Homo sapiens: one gene and its partner. The protein of the gene in region 2 interacts with the protein of the main gene of each other region in a pairwise test. Each region holds a gene or a part of one and is shown on either strand. Other genes may lie near its edges.

What was found.
Region 1: the proteins of MAU2 (region 2) and NIPBL interact in binary tests that used the Homo sapiens proteins (3 or more experiments, as listed by UniProt).

What each region holds. Positions count from the first base shown.
Region 1 is NC_000005.10:37,061,559-37,072,880, reverse strand, and holds the end of NIPBL (nipped-B-like protein), read right to left. Parts: intron 9,092-11,322; coding exon 8,903-9,091; coding exon of another isoform or gene 8,858-8,902; exon of another isoform or gene 8,355-8,857; coding exon 7,989-8,354; 3' UTR 6,468-7,988; downstream 1-6,467. UniProt on the Homo sapiens protein: Plays an important role in the loading of the cohesin complex on to DNA. Forms a heterodimeric complex (also known as cohesin loading complex) with MAU2/SCC4 which mediates the loading of the cohesin complex onto chromatin.
Region 2 is NC_000019.10:19,312,686-19,326,477, reverse strand, and holds the start of MAU2 (MAU2 chromatid cohesion factor homolog), read right to left. Parts: upstream 5,650-13,792; 5' UTR 5,619-5,649; coding exon 5,343-5,618; intron 5,311-5,342; exon of another isoform or gene 4,575-5,310; intron 1-4,574. Other genes in the region: SUGP1 (SURP and G-patch domain-containing protein 1), read left to right, coding at 5,982-6,015, 9,885-10,056. UniProt on the Homo sapiens protein: Plays an important role in the loading of the cohesin complex on to DNA. Forms a heterodimeric complex (also known as cohesin loading complex) with NIPBL/SCC2 which mediates the loading of the cohesin complex onto chromatin.

The DNA of each region.
Region 1 (11,322 bases), on a different chromosome or scaffold from region 2:
TCTGGCTCCAGTGATCTTCCTACCTCAGCTTCTTGAGTAGATGGGACCACAGGTGCATATCACCATGCCCAGCTAATTTTTGTATTTTTTTTTGTAGAGAAAGAGATTTGCTATGTTGCTCAGGCTGGTCTTGAACTCCTGAGCTCAAGTGATCTGCCTGCCGTAGCCTCCCAAAGTGTTGGGATTATAGGCATGAGCCACTGCACCCAGCCTGCAATTTAAAACAAAAATCATTTCCTATTTCTCAATAGTTCAGACATTATTTGGTATCTGTTATGTCTGTTGCATGTCCTGCTTTATCTGAGAATGTTTCACTTGGAGAAGGAAGCCTTTCTGATCTCCCTCAACCATCCAGACTATGTCAGTGCTACATACTCTCCTGGCTTCTATTACTTTTCCTTTCAAGCACACATCTCAGTTGTTATTAAATTGTGTACTTTGTGGTCATTTCCTGTCTCCACTACTGGAATGCAAACTTACTGCCAATGGGTGCAGCACAGCTCATAGTAGGCACTCAGCAAATACTTGTCAAATGATGGAATCTGCAAAAACTAAAGATAATAAACCAGTGTCAGTACCAAAGAAAGAATAAGCCATTGTTTTAGCTCAGGAAAGGAGTATAGAATGTACCATGTGATTCCTTGATCTCCACAATGCAACTCTTCACTTTACTAATTAATTCCCAAGGCCACACTCTATACCTTGCACCCAGAACTGCTCTCAGGAATCTCTTACATCCCTTTCTCTGATCATATCATCCAATTATTCCACATCTGCTGCTCACACTCATACTTGCTCTCCCACTTCATGGAGACTTCTGAGCTTGGATTCTTCCATTTTCTCTGAATCTAGCTCTTCAACTAGAGCTATCCCCGCATCCTGGCTTGATGCCATACTCAATTCTTTGTTGGGAGCTGAGTACTACTGGAGAAAAACAATACAATCATGCAGTTTGGCATCACCACAATTTCTCTACATTGTAGCCAATTACTGATCTTTCTGAACTACAGCCCTTAGTATTATCTTACCCCATTTAAAGCTCTTCCAAATTCCTAAATGTGACATTTTAAATGCTTTATTATTTGCTTCCCTCCCCAGCTTCCCTTCTCAGAATTTCAGTACTCTATGTAGTTATAGCTTAGCCGTTGGTAGCCTCCAAGATCCTCCCCTTGCTCTGTGCTGCTCCTACTCTACAGCTTAAATGCTGTTGACTCCAATAGGGTCCCCACCCTGGCTACCCAAGTGTCATGCTTGTGTATATTCCCACCTCTGAACATCACCATCACCTGAATGTCCCACAGGCACTATCAACATATTTAAAATTGAACCTGGTGACTTAAGCCAAAGAAATCTGATAGCTATCCTTGTCCTGATGTTTTTATTTCCTAAATACATTTGCAGATCACTCCAATCTTCATCCCTACTGCCATCATCCTCCTAGTTCAGTCTCTATTTCTGAGACTATTGCATTAGTGTCCTCTTCTTGACATCCTTGTCTTTCCCCTATGTAGCAGAGTGATCGTTCATCAATCCCTTGAGCCCTTCAACTGCCTATACATTAAAATGATCAAATTATATTACTACATTACTAAAGTTATCAAAATTGCATACTTATCTCTCCTTTCTATGGCTTCATCTTTTGACATTGTACTACACGCACGCCAGCTCCTCTACTCACTATGCTGCTCCCACTTTCAGAATTCCATCCCCCATCTCCCCACTTAACCCAGCATTCTGATTCTCTCTCTCTAATGTGTCTACACAAAACCTAAGTATAGATTTCTTTAAATAAGCTTCCACAAAATAAGCTAAGTGATTTTGTTTACATTTCATTTCACACTTGTTTCAGAAACCCATGGCTTTGTCTATGGCTATGACTATGTCTTCTGACTTCAAAGTTAATACTCTTTTTCACTAACCTAAGTTTTAGTCTTCTACATCAAGCCAGGTGATGTAGAAATAATTAAAACACAATAAAATATCACATTTTCCCTTTTCTACCTAATAGGATGGTAGGCATCACAAAATCTGAGAACACAAAACGTGGATCTTTTGAAAAGGTATAGAAAAAAAAATCAGTAAAATTTAGTCATTAAGTAGCCTACATTCAGATCTTAACAGGAGACTGAATAAGAACTTCCCAAGGTTAAATCTTCCTTATGGGAGATAAGAACCCAGTTTTGCTTTTGACTCTAGCAATAAGTAGGTATGCAGCTTGGTGATATCAATTCACCTCTTTGAGCCTTAATTTCACCTTCTTAAACCTGTAGTCATTCCATAGATTCCCAAGATAGGCCAAAGACGGAAATGGGATGGGGATGTCCATGAACCCCTTGAAATTTTATGCACAATTCTGAATATGAACTTATTCTATTTTCTAAGGAGAGAGATTTCTCGGCTTTCATTATATTCTCAAAGGGGTTAGTAAATTCCAAAGTGATTAAAAACTTCAGATTATTTGCCATCTCTCATATGACTGTATAAATATTTTTAAAACTATGGAATTGGAGATCCATTATTGGTTTAAATTTTATAACAAACTTAGACCATAATAACCTTTTTCTGTTCTTTGCTCCAGGATTTAAATCTAGTAAGGTTAAGGCTAAATTACAATTCTAGGCATGTTATAATCAAGAAAAGCTTACTCTGGTATTTCTTAGCAGAAGAAAGGTCAATGTAAAGGGTTTGATAAAGCAACACTAACTTTTCATTTTAAGTTCTATGTGATTGAGATTTAAACAATGACTGAAAAAAGTCACAAAAGGGCAAAATTCCATTCAACAAAAACTGTAACACCCTGAAAGCTGTATCATTAAAAAAATCATAGCCTGCAGTCAACTTATTTCAAGCAGTATGTATTACAAAATTACTGACCAACAAAAGGAACTCTGATTATAGGGCATCCTCTGGCATCTAGTTCAGCTTCCATTTCCTTACTTTAAATCTCTATCTCCAACTGCCTGCTTGGTTATTTGCCAACTCCAAATCAAAGGATTAATCAATGCTTATCACCATCTTCCTGAAAAGTGGACCTATCTCCGTACTTCATTACCTCTGTAGTGGTACTCTGTTCTAGTTATACAGGCTCAAGCTACTTATGAATTTGAAAGAGATCCAATATCTCTCAAGCCTACAATAACTTCAGGTAAGAAAACTGATTAAAAATCAGAAAACAACTAGACTCTCCATTTAGAATCAACTACTTATTTATTTTTTTTTTGAGACGGAGTTTCGCTGTGTCGCCAGGCTGGAATGCAATGGCGAAATCTCGGCTCACTGCAACCTCCGCCTCCTGGGTTCAAGTGATTCTCCTGCCTCAGCCTCCCAAGTAGCTGGGACTACAGGTGCGTGCCACCACGCCCAGCTAATTTTTGTATTTTTAGTAGAGAGAGGGTTTCACCATGTTGGCCAGGCTGGTCTTGAACTCCTGACCTCTTGATCCGCCCGCCTTGGCCTCCCAAAATGCTGGGATTACAGGCATGAGCCACCGCGCCCAGCCCCTAGAATCTACTTAAGAACCCAAGGAAAAATACTTGTGTTTTCAATATAAGAAATTTGCAAGGAATAAAAAGACATGAGAAAGCCTACAGAAAGGACCTAAAAAATATGACATTTATGAGAAAATAAAAAATTTAAACACTTACTGGATATTTGATATCAAGGAAGAATATTTAAAGATAACCTATTTATGGGGCTGGGCACGGTGGCTCACGCCTGTAATCCCAGCACTTTGGGAGGCTGACGTGGGTAGATCGTGAGGTCAGGAGATTGAGACCATCCTGGCTAACATGGTGAAACCCCGTCTCTACTAAAAATACAAAAAATTAGCCGGGCATGGTGGCGGGCGCCTGTAGTCCCAGCTACTCGGGAGGCTGAGGCAGAATGGTGTGAACATGGGAGGCGGAGCTTGCAGTGAGCTGAGATGGGGCCACTGCACTCCAGCCTGGACGACAGAGCAAGACTCCGTCTCAAAAAAAAAAAAAAAAAAAAAAAAAGATAACCTATTTATGGATAAAATAAAATGATGCCTGAGACTTGTTTCAGAAAGAGTGGAAAGGGGTGCATGGAGTACAGCTCAAATAAATTTGGTCAGAAATTCAGAATGACTGAAACAGAGGAATGGGTAAATGGAGATTCTCTTAAAGTAAAAATAATTTACAAAATTCTTATAAGAAAAATAATTGTGTACACCGTACCACTCTCAGCAGTGAAGCCATATACAATTGGGGTCTTAAAAACGAAGGGTGGCTTGGTACTCACATCATCATGCAAAACACACAGGAACTTTATGACCACTTAGTCAACAGAGTACCAAACTGAATTTGTTTGGTCAGTGACTTTCTATTACACTAAATTTGCATGTAATTGTTTCTCGGCTAGCACCAATAGGACAGACTGTATTTCAGAAAAAAATTCAAGTGAAAAATTAGTAAAATCATTTTGTAACAAATGCTGCCTATGACAAACATTAGCTATAGGACTAAACAAACTTTGGTTTTAAAATGAGCAAGGCAAACAGCAAAAGGTTCAAACACGTAGGATTTTTATGGGGCAAAAATTACTATCAAGTGTTTCAAATTACATTATTTCAAGTGGGTAATCTGATGAGTTTTATATTTGCAAAAGTAATCTTATTCCAATTATCCATATCCACAGTTCTGAAGATGCAGACCACCTGGACACAGGTAGTGACAAGGATGAATTTTTCTGTGCAACTAAAAGTGGTGGGTAGGGGAGGGAGAACCACATACTTCCCTGGTTAATTTATTTCTAAATAAAAATACGGTAAATTTGCTTGCTGATCATGAAATCTGTATTGAACAAACATCAGTTTGACTTACCTGTTTTCATGAGACAGACTATGGTCATAAAAATCACCTGTGTGCTTCAGTTACCTGAATAATTCAAATACTCAACCTATCAACAGAGTAAGCTATATATTTCTCTCAAAAAACTCAGCATTTCTTCCATTAGAGATTACTACATCTAGAAAATTCTAGAGATCACTGAATTTTCTGCCATGTGTATTTTGGTATGAACATATTTTTAAAACTAGCCATTCTTTCTTAATAAACAATTTCAATAAGGCTAAAATTTCATATTAATGTACTTAAAAAGTGAAGAGATACTTGAAAATTTTTATATCAAATATAACCTATCTTTTCAAGTCAATATAACAAGATTAATCTATGGTAATTAATCAACACACTATAGAGTAAGACTGAACTTTCTAAATACTTAATAGAACTTTGTGAATCCCCAATATACTTAAAGTTTGATTTTGTATATTTGACTGCCAAAGCTTTAATAGTGTTAAGACCTAACAATTCATCTTGAAGAATCTTCAACTTTCTGAAAATTTTGGTTTGTATATTTAAGAGTTAAGGCTTATATTAACATTTGGCTTCTATTAACAGATAAAATAGGAGCTTAGAATATATACAAAATTTCAAAACTGATTCCTAAAATTCCTAAATTTCTTTTTCTTTTTTGAGATGGAGTTTCGCTCTTGTTGCCCAGGCTGGAGTGCTATGGCGTGATCTCGGCTCACCGCAACCTCCGCCTCCTGGGTTCAAGCGATTCTCCTGCCTCAGCCTCTCGAGTAGCTGGGATTACAGGTATGCACCACCACGCCCGGCTAATTTTGTATTTTTAGTAGAGACGGGGTTTCCCCATGTTGGTCAGGCTGGTCTTGAACTCCTGACTTCAGGTGATCTGCCCGCCTCGGCCTCCCAAAGTGCTGGGATTACAGGTGTGAGCCACCGTGCCCTGCCTAAAATTCCTAAATTTCTAATGAGTGGCAAACACAGAATTCCATCTATGGCCAACTGAGGCAACAGAAGACTTACTACTGTGTACCTACTTCCTAAAAATTACTCTGAACAGGATTCCCAAGTATGTATACTACAAGGATCCTTTAGGAACTGGTTTACTTCAATAAGGATCATCTCTCTTAATGTCTGATGTTCAATTAGCTTAGAGTAGTGAGACACAATTACTTCAATTCCAGATTTAAATCCCTATCATGACATTAGTAAATTACCAAATCCTTCTAAGCCTGCTATCCTCATCTACAAAATGAGGATAAAATATATAACGAGAGTTTTTGTGAGAATTAAATGACAGCATGCATCACTGTCACGTAAATAGAATTCAAAACTGGCTTTTTACTCACATTTACATTCTTAGTACTCTCTCTGGGCTGGATTTTATTCTTATATTTTCTCTAACCAGTACCCTTTTTGATATATTATTCTCAGAAGTGACCTCAAATCCTTTGTTGATATACATAAACTCCAAGAAGAACCAACCAACCAACCAACCAACCCAATCTAGTTTTGTTCCAGAGTTCACAGTATAAGGAAAAGAGAAACATGTAAGTAAGGGGAACAAAACGAAGAGTGAGAAAACATTTCCGTGAAGAAAGCATTTGAAAGAATTCCACATAGGAAATAGATCCTGAAAAGTTATTTTCATAGTGGTTTAATAGGTGTCACAAAAAGGTATTTTGTGGCAATGTCATTCTTCCTCAAAAATTGAATACCTTCATTTATTTGCCAATTTCATAAAACAGCATTCTGGAGGTCAATTTTTTCAAAGTGATTTAAAAATAAGTAAAACATTTTTAAAAAGAATTAAACTTGAAACAGACCTCATCCACTGTAAATTTTAGGCATTACTATTCCTGAGTGTCAACTATACATATCAAATGATTAAACACCTCCCTCCTGATTTAGTCAAGATATCTGCAGTAAGTAATGTGTAAATGACAACTGTTCCCAAGACTTATGATAAAAGCTTTTAGCATAGATTAGAAAATGAATAAACATCTCAACAAGTAAAATTACTCTTTTCAGCATTAAAAAATAATTTGTGAAAAATGTAGTGAGTGTAATTATGAAGTGTCATATTCATCTCAACTCTAGTTCTAAAATAACCGGACATCATTTTAACCAAGAGAAATGCTGGTTTTCCAAATAACAGGTTACCTTTACCCGAGGTTTAAAGAATAAATATCAGCATCATGACATCACTAGAAAGAAATTGAAGCATACAAGGAATAAACTATAGTTTCTTTTTATATCAAAATGTACTCTTGAAAATGTGTTTGGCACAGTGCTAAATCATATATAGTTAATACTAAATATTGCAGGATACAATAAAACCCTGGAGTTAATTGTTTACACCCTCTTATGGGAATGAAAATAATAGATACCAATTATTCAGAAGTCAGCCTATACAAACTGTATAAACAATATTTTATGTTTTGCTTTGAAAACCAGTGATATAATAAATTTTACATAAAAGACTGTAAAATAATATAAATGGATTTAAACAGATTTTTACAATAAGAAATTCAAATGGAAACAGACAAGTAACAAAGAGAAGTAAAAAAATTTATTGCAGTATTCGCTCCACCAGATTACCTGGGGATCCCTTTTCTTGTATTGTTTTCAGGGTGACCTAATACATCAAAATCTACATTTACAAAAACTCCTTCTGCAGATAGGTCATAGATACTGCATGCTTTTTTTTTTTTCAACAGAATAAATTATATATCCAGGAGATTCTGCCATTTTACAGCCTGGAAAAAACAATGCTTCCCTGGAAACTGGGCTAAGCTAAAGAAAGCCATCCGCTGCTAGGTTAAACTCCAAGAACACTTTATTAAGAACATTAACAGACTAATTTCCAACATTCACTTGTTTATTTTTTTTAAACAGAAAGTTTTTTTTCCAAGATATAAACAATTTTTGTTAAACTATAATACAGTGGGAGTAAAAATGAACTGAGAATCTGTTTCTGCTGCACAACAGCGAAGGGAGCTCCCACAAAAATGTTTGCCCAACATTTCCTTCTTTTGTTCCTGCATCCCAGGTTCCACTTACTCTTCATAAAACTGATTTTTTTTTGCCAGAATGTTGGTATTTCAAGTTTTTCTGCCTTTTAAAAAAATTCCTGTAAATTTGGCTGCATGTACAAATTCATTAGCTGGAAGTCCCATCCTTGGCGGCATACAGGGATCGTAAAGTCTGAACAACTTTATTAGTCAGCTTATTAGCACTCGTTAGAGCAATTTTTTTGTAAATAATGTCTGACTCTTTAATAGTGTCTACCCAAGGCACCAGTTTGCGGCCATCACGGCGCTTAGCCTCAGTCCAGGAGCCACTGTAGGAGCCTGCCATCCACTGAACACTGAAGCCACTGCTGGTTTTCTGCACTACTCTTGCAATTTGTGGTCGATCTTTGTACTTTGGACAGCAAATAGCGATGACATCCATGACGTCAACACTTTCATTCATCTGTGCTGCCAACTCCGTAGAGTCTGAATTTCGTTTTGACCTTCTCAATGACTAAAACATTGGGAGGGGGGAAAAAAGACCAAGTGTTACACAAAAGAATTTTAGTGAAATTATTGTTTTTATTGCTTTTAATCCCTTGACGCCGGGAGTTGGGATTTCCCGGCACACTTCCATTGCCGGCAATGAGACGCACCGTGACCGCCAGCGCCAAGGGGTTAACATATACTTGTAAAACCATATAACTCTTAATTTGTACCCGTGTCTTTACTCTTATTGATATATAAAATTATATATACATATGAACCATATAGCTACATAAAACTTAGCAACAATAAAAATAACACACATTAATACAATTCAAAGAAAAATTAACCCTTTATGCTGGATAAATCTCATTTCTGTTTTTTTATTGTCTTTTATGTTAAACTTTCTACAAAAGGATGTATAAACGGGTAAGTAGAGAATCTCTATCTACAAAATGTTTTCTCTTTTAAGTATTACATTACTTGGTGTACATTTAATAGACTGACATATATAAGCACATAAAAATCATTTTACGTAATACGCTGCGAAATACGTTGACTCCTCCTCCGCCTCACCCCTGAAGTGCCTCCTCCTCTATCCTCCCCATCACTTTCATCATCTTCTGTCTCTGCTGCTGTATTATTTTTAGGGCTGCCTCCTCCAAGCAGTGAGGTAATTGCTTTGTTCCGAGCATTTGTGCTAGCTGAAACCTCCCCTTCTTCTTCTTCTTCATCAGGGTCCAGATGTTCCATGAGAAGTTTGAACTACAAAAAACAGATATTATTTCAGAATTTTAAGTAAATATTTCAAGCAAGATTGTCAAATTCCTAAATGTTTTCTATGGCAGTAGTTTGGTGTGGGTGAAACAGACGTTAGCCATCATCTAAATTAGGGGCTAGTAAACATTTTCTGTAAACAGCCAGGTGGTAAATATTTTTCATTTTGAAGGTCAAATAGTCTGTCACAACTACCCAACTCTGCCACTGTAGTATGAAAGCAGCTACAGACAAATAAATGAGTGGGCATGAATGTTTTCAATAAAACTTTGTTTGCAAAAACAGGCAATGGGTTAGATACAAAAACAGCCAGAGTTTTCAGACCCTTGGTCCAAGTCATCAAGCAATCAGGTGATAATTACTGATAGACATTTTCTAGTTATCTCCCCTCTTTGCTCTCTGCTAAGACGATACAAGAGAAAGCAAAGAATGTTGAAAAATTTTAAATAAGAACTAAAATATTTTTAAATTTTAGAGTAAGGTTTGCAGTCAATGAATAATATGAAAAGCCACTGTGTAGATTATATTCTTAGTTCAAAAAACCTTATTTTATGTTCAGCTACTTGCTTTAAAGTAGATTTTTAAAAATTTTTTTAAGAAAAATAGAAATGGGGTTTTGCAATGTTGGCCAAACTGGTGTCAAACCTCTGGCCTCGAGTGATCTGCCCACCTCAGCCTCCCAAAGTGCTTGTGAGCCACTACACCTGAAATTAAGTAGATTAAAATATAAAACTTTATTTTTATTTTTTAGGATAGTCCTCTAATTTCAAAAACATTTTTAAAAACTTTTATATTGTGATAAAATAGAAATATCATAAAATTTGCCAGCTTAACCCTTTTTTTTTTTCTTTTTAAATTGAGACAGGGTCTCACTCTGTCACTCAGGCTGAAGTGCAGTGGCACGATCATGGCTCACTGTAGCCTCCACCTCCCAGGCTTAGGTGGTCCTCCCACCTCAGCCTCCCCAGCAGTTGGGACTACAGGTGCACACCGCCATGTCTGGCTAATGTTTGTATTTTTTGTAGAGACAGGGTCTCACCCTGTTGCTCAGGCTGGCCTGGACTTCCTGGACTCAAGCAAACCTCCTACATAGGCCTCCCAAGGTGCTAAGATTACAGGTATAAGCCAGCATGTCCAGCCTACCAGTTTAACCATTTTAAATGTATAATTCATTGGCATATTGTACAACTATCACCACTGTCCATTTCCAGAGCTGTTTCTTTTTTTTTTTAATCACTGGAAACCACAGCTGTCCTCATTAAACAATAACTCCCCGTTCTTTCCTTCCCCGGTCCTTGGTAACCTCTAGTCTATTATCTGTCTCTATTTTTAAAGCACATTTTATATACATACATTTGCATACTTGATAAGTGAGAAAATCTACATATATATATATTGGCATTACTCATATAAGAACATACGAAAAAGTAATAATATTGGTTATCAGAAAAGAAAGGAACAGAATAGCCAAACACGGTAAGAGAATGACTGCTTGCAGTTTTACCTTTTATGACATATAAGCCATGTATTTTTCTGAATTAAAAACATAGCCCTCTGTATCCCCGGATTCCGCACCTGCGGATTCAACCCACAGTGGATCAAAAACTATTTGGAAAATGCCACAATAAAAAATAACAGCACTGGCCAGGTATGGTGGCTCATGCCTGTAATCCCAGCACTTTGGGAGGCCGGCGGATCACCTGAGGTCAGGAGTTTGAGACCAGCCTGGCCAACATGGTGAAACCCCATCTCTACTAAAAATACAAAAATTAGCCGGGCGTGGTGGCTGGCGCCTGTAATCCCAGCTATGCGGGAGGCTGAGGCAGGAGACTTGCTTGAACCTGGGAGGCAGAAGTTGCGGTGAGCCGAGATCGCGCCATTGCACTCCAGCCTGGGCAACAAGAGTGAAACTCCGTCTCAAAACAAAACAAACAGCATTACAATAAAAAATACAACTTAAAAAAAATGCAGTATAACAACTATGTATATAGCATTTACATTGTATTAGGTATTATAAGTAATCTAGAAATGACTTAAAGCATATGGGAGGATGTATGTAGGTTATATGCAAATACTATGCTTTTTAAATAATTTTTTTGAGACAGGGTTTCACTCCTGTCACCCAGTATGGGGTGTAATGGTGCAATCTCAGGTCACTGTAACCTCTGCCTCTCAGGCTCAAGCACTTCTCCTGCCTCAGCCTCCTGAGTAGCTGGGAC
Region 2 (13,792 bases):
CCTGACCTCGTGATCCGCCCACCTTGGCCTCCCAAAGTGCTGGGATTACAGGCGTGAGCCACCGCGCCCGGCTATATTTTTTTTTCTGGTAGAGACAGGGTTTTGCTATGTTGCCAAGGCCGGTCTTGAACTCCTGGGCTTAAGCAATCTGCCCACTTTGGCCTCACAAAGTCTTGGGATTGCAGGTGTGAGCCACCACACCTGGCCTGATGGGGACATTTAATGGATGATTCTTTCAAAGTTAGTTGACTTGATGAAGTAGACGAGTAAGTATGTTATATATCTTTCTAGACGACTTAAAATGCAGTTGAGGGCCAGGCATGGTGACACACACCTATAATCCCAGCTACTCAGGAGGCTGAGGTGGGAGGATCGCTTGAACCCGGAGGGCGGAGGTTACAATGATTTGAGATTGCGCCATTGCACTCCAGCCTGGGCAACAAAGTGAGACTCTGTCTCAAAAAAAAAAAAAAAAAAATGCAGTTGAGGAGACCATTAGAAACTGACAGAAGCAGATAAAAGAGAAATAACCTTAAATAAAAATGTGATGACCAAGGAGGCTGGGGTCTCTTAGAGAGAAAGCAAAAGACAGTGAAAACAATAGGAAAGCTGGATGTAGCACTGAGTTCAGGGGCCAATAATAGGTTTTACCTAAGCACTTATGTTAGAGAAAATTAGTTCAGTGAAGAAGAGCAGAGAGATGCCGGGTGTGGTGGCATGCCTGTAATCCCGGCATTTTGGGAGGCTGAGGCGGGCAGATCACCTGAGGTCAGGAGTTCGAGACCAGCTTGACTAACATGATGAAACCTTGTTTCTACTAAAAATACAAAATTAGCTGGGCATGGTGGCACATGCCTGTAATCCTAGCTACTCAGGAGGTTGTGGTAGGAGAATCGTTTGAACCCGGGAGGTGGAGTATGCAGTGAGCTGAAATCGCACCACTGCACTCCAGCCTGGGTAATAGGAGTGAAACTCCTTCTCAAAAAAATGAAAAATAAAATAGGCTGGGTGTGGTGGCTCACACCTGTAATCCCAGCACTTTGGGAGGCCAAGGCGGGTGGATCACCTGACGTCAGGAGTTCAAGGCCAGCCTGACCAACGTGGTGAAACCCCTTCTTTACTAAAAATACAAAAATTAGCTGGGCGTGGTGGTGGGCGCCTGTAATCCCAGCTGCTTGGGAGGCTGAGGCAGGAGACTCGCTTGAACCCGGGAGGCAGAGGTTGCAGTGAGCCAAGATTGCGCCATTGCACTCCAGAGCCTGGGTGACAGAGCAAGACTACATCTCAAAAAATAAATAAATAAAATAAAAGTAACAATAAAAATAAAAAGAACAGCAGAGAGAATGAGCAAGGAGAAATGTCACAAACTATTGCAAAATACTGTTACACTGGGTTGGCTCTCCAAGAAGACACTGGAATCTCTTCAGCCATTTGCTTTTCAGAAGTAGAAACCAGCAAACCACCTCTAAGCGGAGAACATACGATTCTTTATTAAGTAGCTCTGGGGAAGGAAAGAATAAAAGTTGATAGCTCCCTGATTGGGAAAAAATGCACAATTAATAAAGAATGAAGATGAAAGAAAGCATGCTTATGTTGTAACACAAAAAAAATTCACAAACGTTGGTGGAAGGAAAACAGTATAGAAAACATTACTTTAACTAAAAGCTGGAAAAATTTTCAGTTGGGATGCGACTGACAAAAAGAACGGGATTTCCAGGCATAAAGTTGGCGTGAGCTACAGAGGGCACCATGTGGCTCAGTGGAAGACCCTTCAAGATTCAAAGTTCCATTTGACAGAGCAAAGGCACTTCGCAAGGAGAAGGGTTTAAATTATGGGTCCAAAAGCCAAGTGGTAAAGCGAGCAATTTGCAGCATGACTGCTTCTCCTAGACAGGGCTGAGTGGGCAAAATACGACAGTACACACAGTGACTATTAGCCACTGCCAGAAACAGGCTGAACAGCCCTGGGAGACAAGGGAAGGCAGGTGGTGGGAGTTGTTCATGGAGAGAAAGGAGAGTTTTAGAACCAGCACATCCACTGGAGATGCTGGGCCACCAGACCCCTCCCAGTCAATAAAGTCTGGTGCCTCATTTGATCTCAGCCTCATCATGACCCTGGAGAGACCCTGATACCATCTGCCAGTCCCCGACAGCTTAGGCACTCCTTGCCATCAACCTGACCCCCCGAGTGGTTCTCCAGGCTCCCTGCCCCACCCATTCAGGCCTCTGCTCAAATGTCACTCCCACAAATAGAGACTCTCTCACTACCTCTGCCAAAAATAGCTCCAAGTCAACTCCATCTCTTCTCCCTGGTTCAGTTCTCAAGGTTCTTCCATCACTGCCTAACCTCTTACTATATGCTTATCATTTGTCTTCCTCATGAAAACCTAGGCTTACGTGGGCAGAAACTGTTTTAGCCATTGCTGATCCCCCGGCACCAAAAATAGGGCTTGGCATCCTGCATGAGCTGAACAAGTATCTGTTGAATGAATCAAAGGAAAAAAAACTTCACCAAAACAATAATGATGTATCATCTTGGCATGTAACCTGGTTATCACTGAGCTGGAGTTTGAGCCTAGTTTTGTCAATAACTTGTTGTGCAGCCTTGGGCAAATCACTTTACCTCTCTGGGCCCATAATGCCTCCCTTTTGAAACAAGGCAGTTGATCAAGTGAGGACTAAAGTTGCCTTCCACGCTGGGCACAATGGCTCAAGCCTGTAGTTCCAGCACTTTGGGAGGCTGAGGCAGGTGGATGGCTTGAGCTCAGGAGTTCAAGCCCTTGTCTTTACAAAAAACACAAAAATTAGCTGGGTGTGGTGGTGCGTACCTGTGGTCCCAACTACTCAGGAGGCTGAGATGGGAGGACTGCTTGAGCCCAGGAGGTCAAGGCTGCAGTGAGCTGAGATCACGCCAGTGCACCCCAGCCGGGGTGATGGAGCGAGACCCTGTCTCAAAATAAATAAATAAATAAATAAATAAAACTGGCCAGATGTGGTGACTCACACCTATAATCCTAGCACTTTGGGAGGACAAGATGGGCGGATCACTTGAGGTCAGGAGTTCGAAACCAGCCTGACCAAATGGTGAAACTCTGTCTCTACTAAAAATACAAAAATTAGCCAGATGATGTGGTGCAAGCCTGTAATCCCAGCTACTCGGGAGGCTGAGGCAAGAGAATTGCTTGAACCCACGAGACGGAAGTTGCAGTGAGCCAAGACCGCGCCACTGCACTCCAGCCTGGTGACAAAGCGAGAATCTGTCTCAAAAAAAAAAGAAAAAAAATTATCTGGGGCTGGGCGCAGTGGCTCATGCCTGTAATCTCAGCACTTTGGGAGGCCGAGGGGAGTGGATCACAAGGTCAGGAGTTCAAGACCAGCCTGGCCAATACTGTGAACCCGTCTCTACTAAAAATACAAAAATTAGCTGGGTGTGGTGGCGCACACCTGTAGTCCCAGCTACTCGGGAGGCTGAGGCAGGAGAATCACTTGAACCCGGGAGACGGAGGTTGCAGTGGGCTGAGATCCTGCCATTGCGCTACAGCCCCGGCAACAAGAGCGAAACTCCGTCTCAAAATAAACAAATAAATAAAATAAAATAAAATAAAGTCTCCTTCCAACTTTTCAGTCTGTGAAACAAAGATTTGATCTATTCCTCAAGGCAAGTTGTTACTAGCTGAGGGTGGGCTTGGATTTACCTCAGATTAATGAGTTTTTAAAATCTGAGTTGATTCTTTTCAATAATTTTCTATTCAAGCAGGACAGAGCTGGGTAAAAGGTAAAAGGGAGGCAGGGGTCTGACAGGATCACAGCGCTGCTGTGAGAAAAAAACGACTCCACAGCCTGAAATTTTATTATTTTTTCCTTATTATCTTTTTTTTCTGAGACAGGGTTTCACTGTCACCAAGGCTGGAGTGAAGTGGCGTGATCACTGCTCACTGCAGCCACGACCTCCCGGGGCTTAGCTGATCCTCCCACCTCAGCCTCTGGAGTAGATGGGACTACAGGCCCGCGTCAGTACGCCCAGCTAGTTTTTGTATTTTTTGTAGAGACGGGATCTCACTGTGTTGCCCAGGCTGGTCTCAAACTCCTGGGGTCTAGTAATCTGTCTGCCTCCGCCTCCCAAAATACTGGGATTACAGACATAAGCCACTGAGCCTGGCCCTAGAAAGTTTATTAAAGGGGCCGGGCGCGGTGGCTCAAGCCTGTAATCCCAGCACTGTGGGAGGCCGAGGTGGGCAGATCATGAGGTCAGGAGATGGAGACCACCCTGGCTAACACGGTGAAACCCCATCTCTACTAAAAAATACAAAAAATTAGGCAGGCGTGGTGGCGGGCGCCTGTAGTCTCAGCTACTCAGGAGGCTGAGGCAGGAGAATGGCCTGAACCCGGGAGGCGGAACTTGCAGTGAGCCAAGATGGCACCACTGCACTCCAGCCTGGGTGACAGAGCAAGACTCCGTCTCAAAAAAAAAAAAAAAAAGAAAGTTTACTAAAGGGCAGAATGACAGCCACTCTCCCGCATTCTTTGAGGCACCAAGATGACACAAATCAAGTTGGGTCAGGGGAGGGACTCACTCTGACGGAAGAGGATGGACTGATGGATGGTAGAAGTCACCAGTGGATGGAGAAAAAGCAGGAGCTGCTTTTAGTTCCCCTAATACTGAAACTGAACAGCGGGGCCTGGAATCCAGAACCCCTGTTTCTCCTCCTCATAGGCCTCAAATGACCAACTCCAGACTCCGGGTCTCAGCTTCCCTCGTACGACACCAGGCATTATTGATGGGGGCACAAGACCCTCCAAAAACCACGATTACCAAACTTCTGTGTCCAAGGAGAATCATGCCCTTCCAGGTTCCTGAGAGACCAGACTTCAGATTCCCGGGAGAATGCCAGGGGTCTCGCCTTCGCCAACCCCTACCCCAAGTCACTTTAGGTGGAAGCGTTTGGGGCTGATGCTCCGGAAGCTGAACCAGGAGGAGCTAATAGCTTCAGGACCCTGTGATGTCCCCATCGCCACCAACAGGTGGGATCCTCCTGAAAACCAGACGATTTGCGGATCCTGTTGCTCCCAATAACAGGCAACTTTCAGAGTACGGTGACGGGGCTCCTGGAGCCCTGTCACCAGAAACGGGAAATAAGGCGTGGGGGGCGAGGCTTTCGTGTCCCTTGAGAGGCTGGTGGCTTTGGGGTCCGGCAGAGGCGGGTGGGGGTCCTGCGGCTTTGACGGAGGTCGCGCCCCCAGGTCGCCGAGGAGCGGCCCCCCACCCGCCGCGGTCGCGACCCGTCAGCCCAGATCTTGCAAGGAGCCCGCGACTCCTCCCTCGCGGCCCGGCCCGCGCTCACCGCCTTCTCCAGGTGGCTGCGCGCCTGCTCGCTGTTCTTGGTGTGGTGATAGAGAACGGAGCCCAGCTGCAGGTGTGTACGGGCCTCGATGCGCTGCGGCGGCTTGAAGGGGAACACGGCCTGCAGGCAGTGCACGCACAGGCGGATTTTGGGCGGGCTGGAAGTGCGGAAGTGCTCAGCGAAGCCCAGAAGCGCCAGGTACCACGAGTCGGCCGCCTCGGCCTGCGCAGCCTGGGCCGCCGCCGCCTGGGCCGCTGCCGCCGCCTGAGCCGCCATTTTGGCCTCCACAACAACAAGCCGCCGCCACAGGGAGGCGGAAGCAGGCGCGCGAGACGGGGCCGGGCTCTCCTCGCGGCTTCCGCGAGATCTGCCGCCCAAAGCATCCTGGAACATGTAGTTTGTATTTGGGATGACTGCCGCTCCGGGAAGGTGTAAAAGGGCGACGCCGTTTGGTTATCGTGACTGGGACTTAGGCATCGCTGATAGGCTGAGGCTTCCGTTTCTGGAGGTTAAAAAAAAAAAAACCCAGTCGTTCACGCAGTAATAGGGCGAGTCTGACCGAGGCGGACTACATCTCCCATCAGGCGATGCACACTATAACAGGGCCCCTTAAGGGGCGCCGGAGCATTGTGGGATTGGATGAGTCTCAAGATGGACAACCGGGATGTTGCAGGTAACAGCCCCCGCCTCCTCTCAGGCGGCCGCCTGGGTCCCTGGGGCTAGGTGTCTCCCCTGACTCCTCGGGTCCGTCCTGCTGCGACCCGTGGATCCCTCGCTTCAGCCCCGGGGCAGCCCACAGCGTCGGCTTCTGCACCTCTTGGTTTCTCGAGACCCCAGACCCAGGTTGCTGGCCGCCCCCGCTTGGTTTGCTGAGGACGCACGGATCTCCGTAGAGGCCGCCACCCGGCTCGGCCCTGCGTCCCGTTTCCGAAACAACCGCCTTCAGGGCTGCTCCAACCTCCGTTCCCCAATACGGCGACAACCTTGGGCTGTCCCTGCACCCCTCTTTTCGTCGCAGCTGGCCTCTGGCCTGTGTCCCGCTTTCTGGAAAAGCTGCTTTTCCGAAGTGCTTTGAGGCTCCCTTGACACACTTTCCCGCGTCTTTTGACCCTCACTTTGCTGCAAGCCTTGGCCTTTCTGCTTCCCCAGAATAGAATGCATTTACCCATCAGCAGATACTTAGGGCGTGCTCACTGTGTGCCAAGCAGTGTGCTGGGCGCTACGCATGCAGCGGTGACCGAAACAGGGCCCTGCCTTCCTGGAGGTTGCTTTCTACTGGGGTGTCAGTGCATTAATGAGAAAATATTTACAAAAACTTACGTATGATGTGAGGTTACGTATGATATGATCAGAGTGGAGGCTTCTGATATTGGGTAGTCAGGAAAGACCTTTTCTTTCTTTCTTTCTTTTTTTTTTTTTTTTTTTTTTTGAGACAGGGTCTCACTTTGTCGCCCAGGCTGTAGTGCAGTGGCTCACTGTGGCTCCCTGGGTTCAGGTGATCCTCCCACCTCAGCCTCCCTAGTAGCTGAGACCACAGATGCGCGCCACCACACAGCGAATTTGTGTGTTTTTTGTGTTGCCACGTTTCCCATGCAGGTCTGGAATTCCTAGGCTCAAGCGATCCTCCCATCTCAGCCTCTTAAAGTGCTGGGGTTACGTAAAGGTGTGAGCCACCACACCTGGCCCAGGGAAAGGCCTTTTCAAGCAGAGGACATTTGAGTTAAGACAATGAATGCCAGCTATGGGAATCCCTGGAGGGTGGAGCCTTCCACACAGAGGGGGGCCAGTAAATGCAGAGGCCCTGGTAGGATGGGCTTGTCCTTTTGAAGAATGTCAAGGATGAAGCAGAAGGGAGGGGAACCATCTGGCGGGGCCTTGAAAATGGCCTTTTAGAATTCTTTTTTTCTTTTTGTTGAAGCGGAGTTTCGCTCTGTCGCCCAGGCTGGAGTGCAGTGGCACGATGTCGGCTGACTGCAACCTCTACCTCCCGGGTTCAAGCCATTCTTCTGCCTCAGCCTCCTGAGTAGCTGGGATTACAGGCGCCGGCCACCGCACCTGGCCAGTGTTTTTGTGTATTTTTAGTAGAGACGGGGTATCACCATGTTGGCCAGGCTGGTCTCGATCTCCTGACCTCAAGTGATCTGCCTGCTTCAGCCTCCCAGGTGCTGGGATTACAGGTGTGAGTCACCATGCCCGGCTCAGACTTTTAAAATTTGGATTTTATTCTGAGTCCCATGGGGAACCTCTGAGGTGTCTTCCCTGTCTCCATACTATCACCCTAGTCTGAAGACATCATTGTCTGTTGCTTGGAGCCAGTGAGCCTCCCTGGTCTTGTTGCCTGTGGATTCTCTGGCCAGAATGATTACCTAGTAGCCAGGATGAAAATAAAACGACCCTGTGGATATTGGCTAGGTGTGGTGATCCATGCCTAAAATCTCAGCATTTTGGGAGGCTTAAATGGGAGGCTCCCTTGAGGACAGGAGTTCAAGATTAGCCTGGGGAACATAGCAAGAACCTGTCTCTACAAAAAATAAAAGAAAATAGCTAGGCCTGGTAGAGTGTGCCTGTAGTCCTAGCCACTCGGGTGGCTGAGGTGGGAGAATCTCTAGAGCCCAGGAGTTTGAGGATGCAGTGAGCTACGATCATGCAACTGCACTCCTGCCTGGGCAACTCAGCGAGACCCTGTCTCAAAAAAACAAAACAAAACAAAAAAAACGGCTGGGTGTGGTGGCTCACGCCTGTAATCCCAGCACTTTGGGAGGCTGAGGTGGGTGGATCACTTGAGGTCAGGAATTCGAGACCAGCCTGGCCAACATGGTGAAGCCCCATCTCTACTAAAAATATGAAAAAATTAGCCAGGCATGGCGGCAGATGCCTGTAGTCCCAGATACTCGGGAGGCTGAGGCAGGAGAATCGCTGGAACTCTGGAGGTGGAGATTGCAGTGAGCCAAGATCGCGCCATTGCACTCCAGCCTGGGGGAAAAGAGCAATACTTCATCTCAAAAAAAAAAAAAAAAAAAAAGAAGGCTGGGTTCGGTGGCTCACGCCTGTAATTCCAGCGCTTTGAGAGGCGTAAATTGGAGGTTCCCTTGAGGACGGGAGTTCGAGACCAGCCTGGACAACATGGCGAAATCCTAACTGTACTAAAAATATAAAAATTAGCCAGGTGTGGTGGCTCACGCCTGTAATCCCAGCTACTCAGGAGGCTGAGGCAGGAGAATCGCTTGAACCTGGGAGGTGGAGGTTGCAATGAGCCGAGGTGGTGCCACTGCATTCCATCTTGGCTGACAGAGTAACAGTTCGCCTCAAAAAAAAAAAAAAAAAAAAGCCACTGGGGCACGGTGCCTCATGCCTGTAAATCCCAGCACTTTGGGAGGCCAAGGTGGAAAGAATGTTTGAGACCAGCCTGGGCACTATAGCAAGACCTCATCTCTATGAAAAAATTTAAAAATTAGCCAAGTGAGGTGGTGCATGCCTGTAATCCAAGCTATTTGGGAGGCTGAGGTGGGAGGATTGCTTGAGCCGGGGAGGCGGAGGCTGCAGTGAGCTGAGATCACACCACTGCACTCCAGCCTGAGAAACAGAGCCAGACCCTGTCTCAAAAAAAGACCCAATGGATCTTGCATTCTTCATCTTAGTGCTTCTCCATCACTCCCCAAAGCCCTTATAATAAAGCACAGATGCTCTGACATGCCTCACCTCTGCCTGTCCCTGGAGCAGGCCCCTCTGACACTGGGCACTTGCTGCTCCTTGGATGTACCAGGCTTCTTCCTGCCTTGAGCTTTCACATCTGCTCCTTCTTCTGCCCAGATCATCTCCCATTTGGCTTTTCATGACGCTGGCTTCTTATTTGTTTTTTCTGGTTTAAATGTCTCCTCTTCTAGTGTTTATTTTCTGCCTGTCCTACCTGCATATGTACTCTCCTGTTACTTTTTCACCCTTTTTTGGTTTTCAGCAGAGCTCTTACCACATTGTGCACTTACTTTTTTTTTTTTTTTTGAGACAGAGTCTTGCTCTGTTGCCAGGCTGGAGTGCAGTGGCACCATCTCGGCTCACTGCAACCTTCACCTCCCTGGTTCAAGCAATTTTCCTGCCTCGGCCTCCCTAGTAGCTGGGATTACAGGCACATGCCACCATACCCAGCTAATTTTTGTATTTTTAGTAGAGACAGGGTTTCACCACGTTGGCCAGGCTGGTCTCGATCTCCTGACCTCAAGTGATCCGCCTGCCCCTGCCTCCCAAAGTGCTGGGATTGCAGGCATGAGCCTCTGCACCAGCCCGAAAGTTACTTTTTTATTATGGGTCTATTGTCTTCCCAGCCTGAAGCGAGTCCCACGTGGGCAGAGACCTGTGTTCTCTTGCATAGCACGTAGTAAGTACAGGGTATGGTATGCAGCAGGCACTCTGTAAGTGTTTGCTGAATAAATGAACTAATAGACATATAAATTAATCTGAACATCAGTTGCTCTCTGGCCTGTCACAGCTTCTTGGGGTGTTTGTGGAGTAAGGGTGATTTCCGACGTACTCCTTTTCCCTCCCCAGGAAAGGCTAACCGGTGGTTTGGGGTTGCTCCCCCTAAATCTGGAAAAATGAACATGAACATCCTTCACCAGGAAGAGCTCATCGCTCAGAAGAAACGGGAAATTGAAGCCAAAATGGAACAGAAAGCCAAGCAGAATCAGGTGGCCAGCCCTCAGCCCCCACATCCTGGCGAGTAAGTGCCTGCTGGGGCCTGGATGGGGCCTGGATGTGAGTCTTTGAGGGTCACCAGCACAGGGTTTGGCTTGTGAGGGCAGTCAGCATGTGCTTGCACCCAGCCATAGCCTGATGATCCAAGGAATGACCCAGATGCCCTTGGGAGGCTCACTGTGGCAAGAGAGAAATGAGGGGTATGTGGAAGCCCAGAGGACAGCCTGCCAACTCATCCACTCAGCAGTTATTTACTGCCAGCCAGCTGTGGTGCAGAGGGAAGGGGTATAACAGAGTAAAAATCTCTGCCTTGAGTTCAGGTGTGCTGCCTCACACCTGTAATCTCAGCCCTTTGGGAGGCTGAGACAGAGGATCACTAGAGGCCAGGAGTTTGAGACCAGCTTTGCCAACATAGTGAAACCCCATCTCTACTAAAAAATACAAAAAATTAGCTGGGCATTGTGGCACGTGCCTGTAGTCCCAGCTGCTCAGGAGGCTGAGGCACGAGAATCTCTGGGATCTGGCAGGCAAAGGTTGCAGTGAGTTGAGATCGTGCCACTGTACACTACCCTGGGCCATAGAGTGAGACTCTGTCTCAAAAAAAAAACAAAAAAAAACCTCTGCCCTTATGGGGTGACAAACTACTGGCAAAGGGATGCAGGTGCCGCCCCAGAGCTCCTGGAAGATAACAAAGGCAGTGTGTTCCCAGGCCCCGTGGCCACAGTAAGGCCACAGAGCTTTGCATCCTGAAAGCCCAGGTGGAGCTGGCCCACTGAGGAAGCAGAGAAAGGCCTGCCCAGCAGAGGGCAGGAAGGGGAGAGAGCCCATATGTGGAGGGCCAGCCTGAGCTGCTGTACCAAAGGGGCTGTCCCTTAGTGGATGGCAGGTGGATGATAGCTCAGCAAGGGTTTCCACTTGCCTGTCCTGAGAAACACTGAGGGCACCAAGGGTTTTGATCAAGGGGTGATGTTGTGATGAGGGTGACCAGATCCAAGCTTTTCAGGCTGGAGATTGATAATCTGAGAGGCAGGCCCCTTCCTCTGGGGTCTGGAGTGTAGAGTGTGTTAACCTTCCCCAAGGCCTTGTTCCAGCTCCAGCTTTTCCTTTTTTTTTTTCTTTGAGACAGGGTTTTGCTCTGTCACCCAGGCCGGAGTGCAGTGGTGGGATCATGGCTCACCGAAGCCTTGAGCTCTTGGGCTTTAGCAGTTCTCTTGCCTCAGCCTCCCAAGTAGCTGGGACCACAGGCACGTGCCACCATGCCTGGCTAATTTTTTTCTATTTTTGTAGAGATGAGGTCTTGTTATGTTGCCCAGGTTGGTCCCGAACTCCTAGACTCAAGTGATCCTCCCACCTTGGCCTCCCAAAGGGATTACAGGTGTGAGCCACTGCACCCAGCAGCGTTTGCCTTTTCTTCTTTCTTTTTCTTTTTTTGTTGCCTAGGCTAGAGTGCAGTGGCACGATCTCAGCTCACCACAACCTCTGCCTCCAAGTTTCAAGCGATTCTCCTGCCTCAGCCTCCCAAGTAGCTGGGATTACAGGCATGCGCTGCCACGCCCAGCCAATTTTGTATTTTTAGTAGAGGCGGGGTTTCTCCTTGTTGGTCAGGCTGGTCTCAAACTCCTGACCTCAGGTGATCCGCCCCTCTCAGTCTCCCAGAGTGTTGGGATTACAGGCGTGAGCCACTGCACCCGGCCAAGAACCAGCATTTTTATCTCCCAGTATTTGTTACCAGTGGTTTTCAGGTGGGAGCCGTTCGCTGTACTCTGCAGCCTGAATGTGATTTCTTGTCTTTCCTTGTCCCTACCTCTTCCTGGTCCCTCCTGAGTGAAGTGCTCAGGGTGTGAGTATGGGGGCAGGCCCAGGAACTGAGGGGTGCCCAGAATGTCCTGGTTGTTTAGTGTCAACATTGAACCTTCTTTTTCATATAAAATTACTTCTACTCCTTCTTTTTTTAAACTTTAAAGGTAATTCATGTACATGGTAGGAAATCCAGGAAGTAGAAGAGGGGTAAACAAAAAACCAAAGTCACTCATAACTCTGCAACACAGAGACAAGCACTGGTTGAGTGTTGAGGTGTTTTTCTGTTTTTTTTAATTTTATTTAATTAATTAATTTATTTATTTTTGAGACGAGTCTTGCTCTGTCACACAGGCTGGAGTGTAGTGGTGCCATCTCGGCTCACTACAACCTCCGCCTGTTGGATTCAGGAGATTCTCCTGCTCAGCCTCTCGAGTAGCTGGGATTACCAGTGTGCGCCACGATGCCCGGCTATTTATTTATTTATTTATTTATTTATTTATTTTATTTTTTGAGACAGAGTCTCACTCAGCCGCCCAGGCTGGAGTGCAGTGGTGTGATCTTGGCTCACTGCGACCTCCGCCTCTTGGGCTCAAGTGATTCTCCTGCTCAGCCTCCCGAGTAGCTGGGATTACAGGAACCCACCATCGTGCCCGGCTAATTTTTGTATTTTAGTAGAGATGGGGTTTCATCATGTTGGCCAGGCTGGTCTTTAACTCCTGGCCTCAGGTTGTTCCTCCCACCTCGGCCTCCCTAAGTGCTAGGATTACAGGCATAAGTCTCTGAGCCCGGCCATTTTTTTGTATTTTAGTTGAGACAGGGTTTCACTATGTTGACCAGGCTAGTCTTGAACTCCTGGCCACAGGTGACCTACCCGCCTCTGCCTCCCAAAGTGCTGGGATTACAGCCTTGAGCCACCGTGCCGGGCCTGTTTTATTTCAGAGGCAGGATCTCACTCTGTCACCCAGGCTGCAGTACAGTGGCACTATCATAGCTCACTGCAGTCTGGAATTCCTGGACTCAAGCTATCTTCCCACCTCAGCCTCTTGAGTAGCTGGGACTACAGATGTCCACTGCCATGCCTAGCTAATTTTTAAATTTTGTGTAGATGGGGTCTCACTATGTTGCCCAGGTTGGTTTTGAACTTCTGGGTTCAAGTGATCCTCCTACCTTGGCCTCCCAAAGCATTAGGTTTACAGGTGTGAGCCACTGCTCCTGGCCCGATGTGTTTGTCTAACAATTTTTTTTTATATTTGAGATGAAGTCTAACTCTGTTGTCCAGGCTGGAGTGCAATGGCGCGATCTTGGCCCACTGCAACATTCGCTTCCTGGGTTCAAGTGATTCTTCTGTCTCAGCCTCCCCAGTGACTGGGATTACAGGTGCCCGCTACCACGCCCGGCTAATTTTTTGTATTTTTAGTAGAGACGGGGTTTCATCATGTTGGCCAGGCTGGTCTTGAACTCCTGACCTCAGGTGATCCGCCTGCTTTGGCCTACCGAAGTGCTGGGATTACAGGTGTGAGGTCCCGCACCCGGCCTTTGTAACAATTTTTAATTCAAATGTATTTTGATGTAAGTAGAACCACACTGTAGATACTGTTTTATAGCCTGTCCTTTTGTTTTTTTTTATTTATTTATTTTATTTATTTATTTTTTTTTTGAGATGGAGTCTTGCGCTGTTGCCCAGGCTGGAGTGCAGTGGCACGATCTCGGCTCACTGCAGGCTCTGCCTCCTGGGTTCACACCATTCTCCTGCCTCAGCCTCCTGAGTAGCTGGGACTGCAGGTGCCCCCCACCATGCCCGGCTAATTTTTTTTTTAATTTTTAGTAGAGACGGGGTTTCACTGTTTTAGCCAGGATGGTCTCGATCTCCTGACCACGTGATCCACCCGCCTTGGCCTCCCAAAGTGCTGGGATTACAGGCGTGAGCCACCGCGCCTGGCCTTGTTTTTCCTTTAACATTG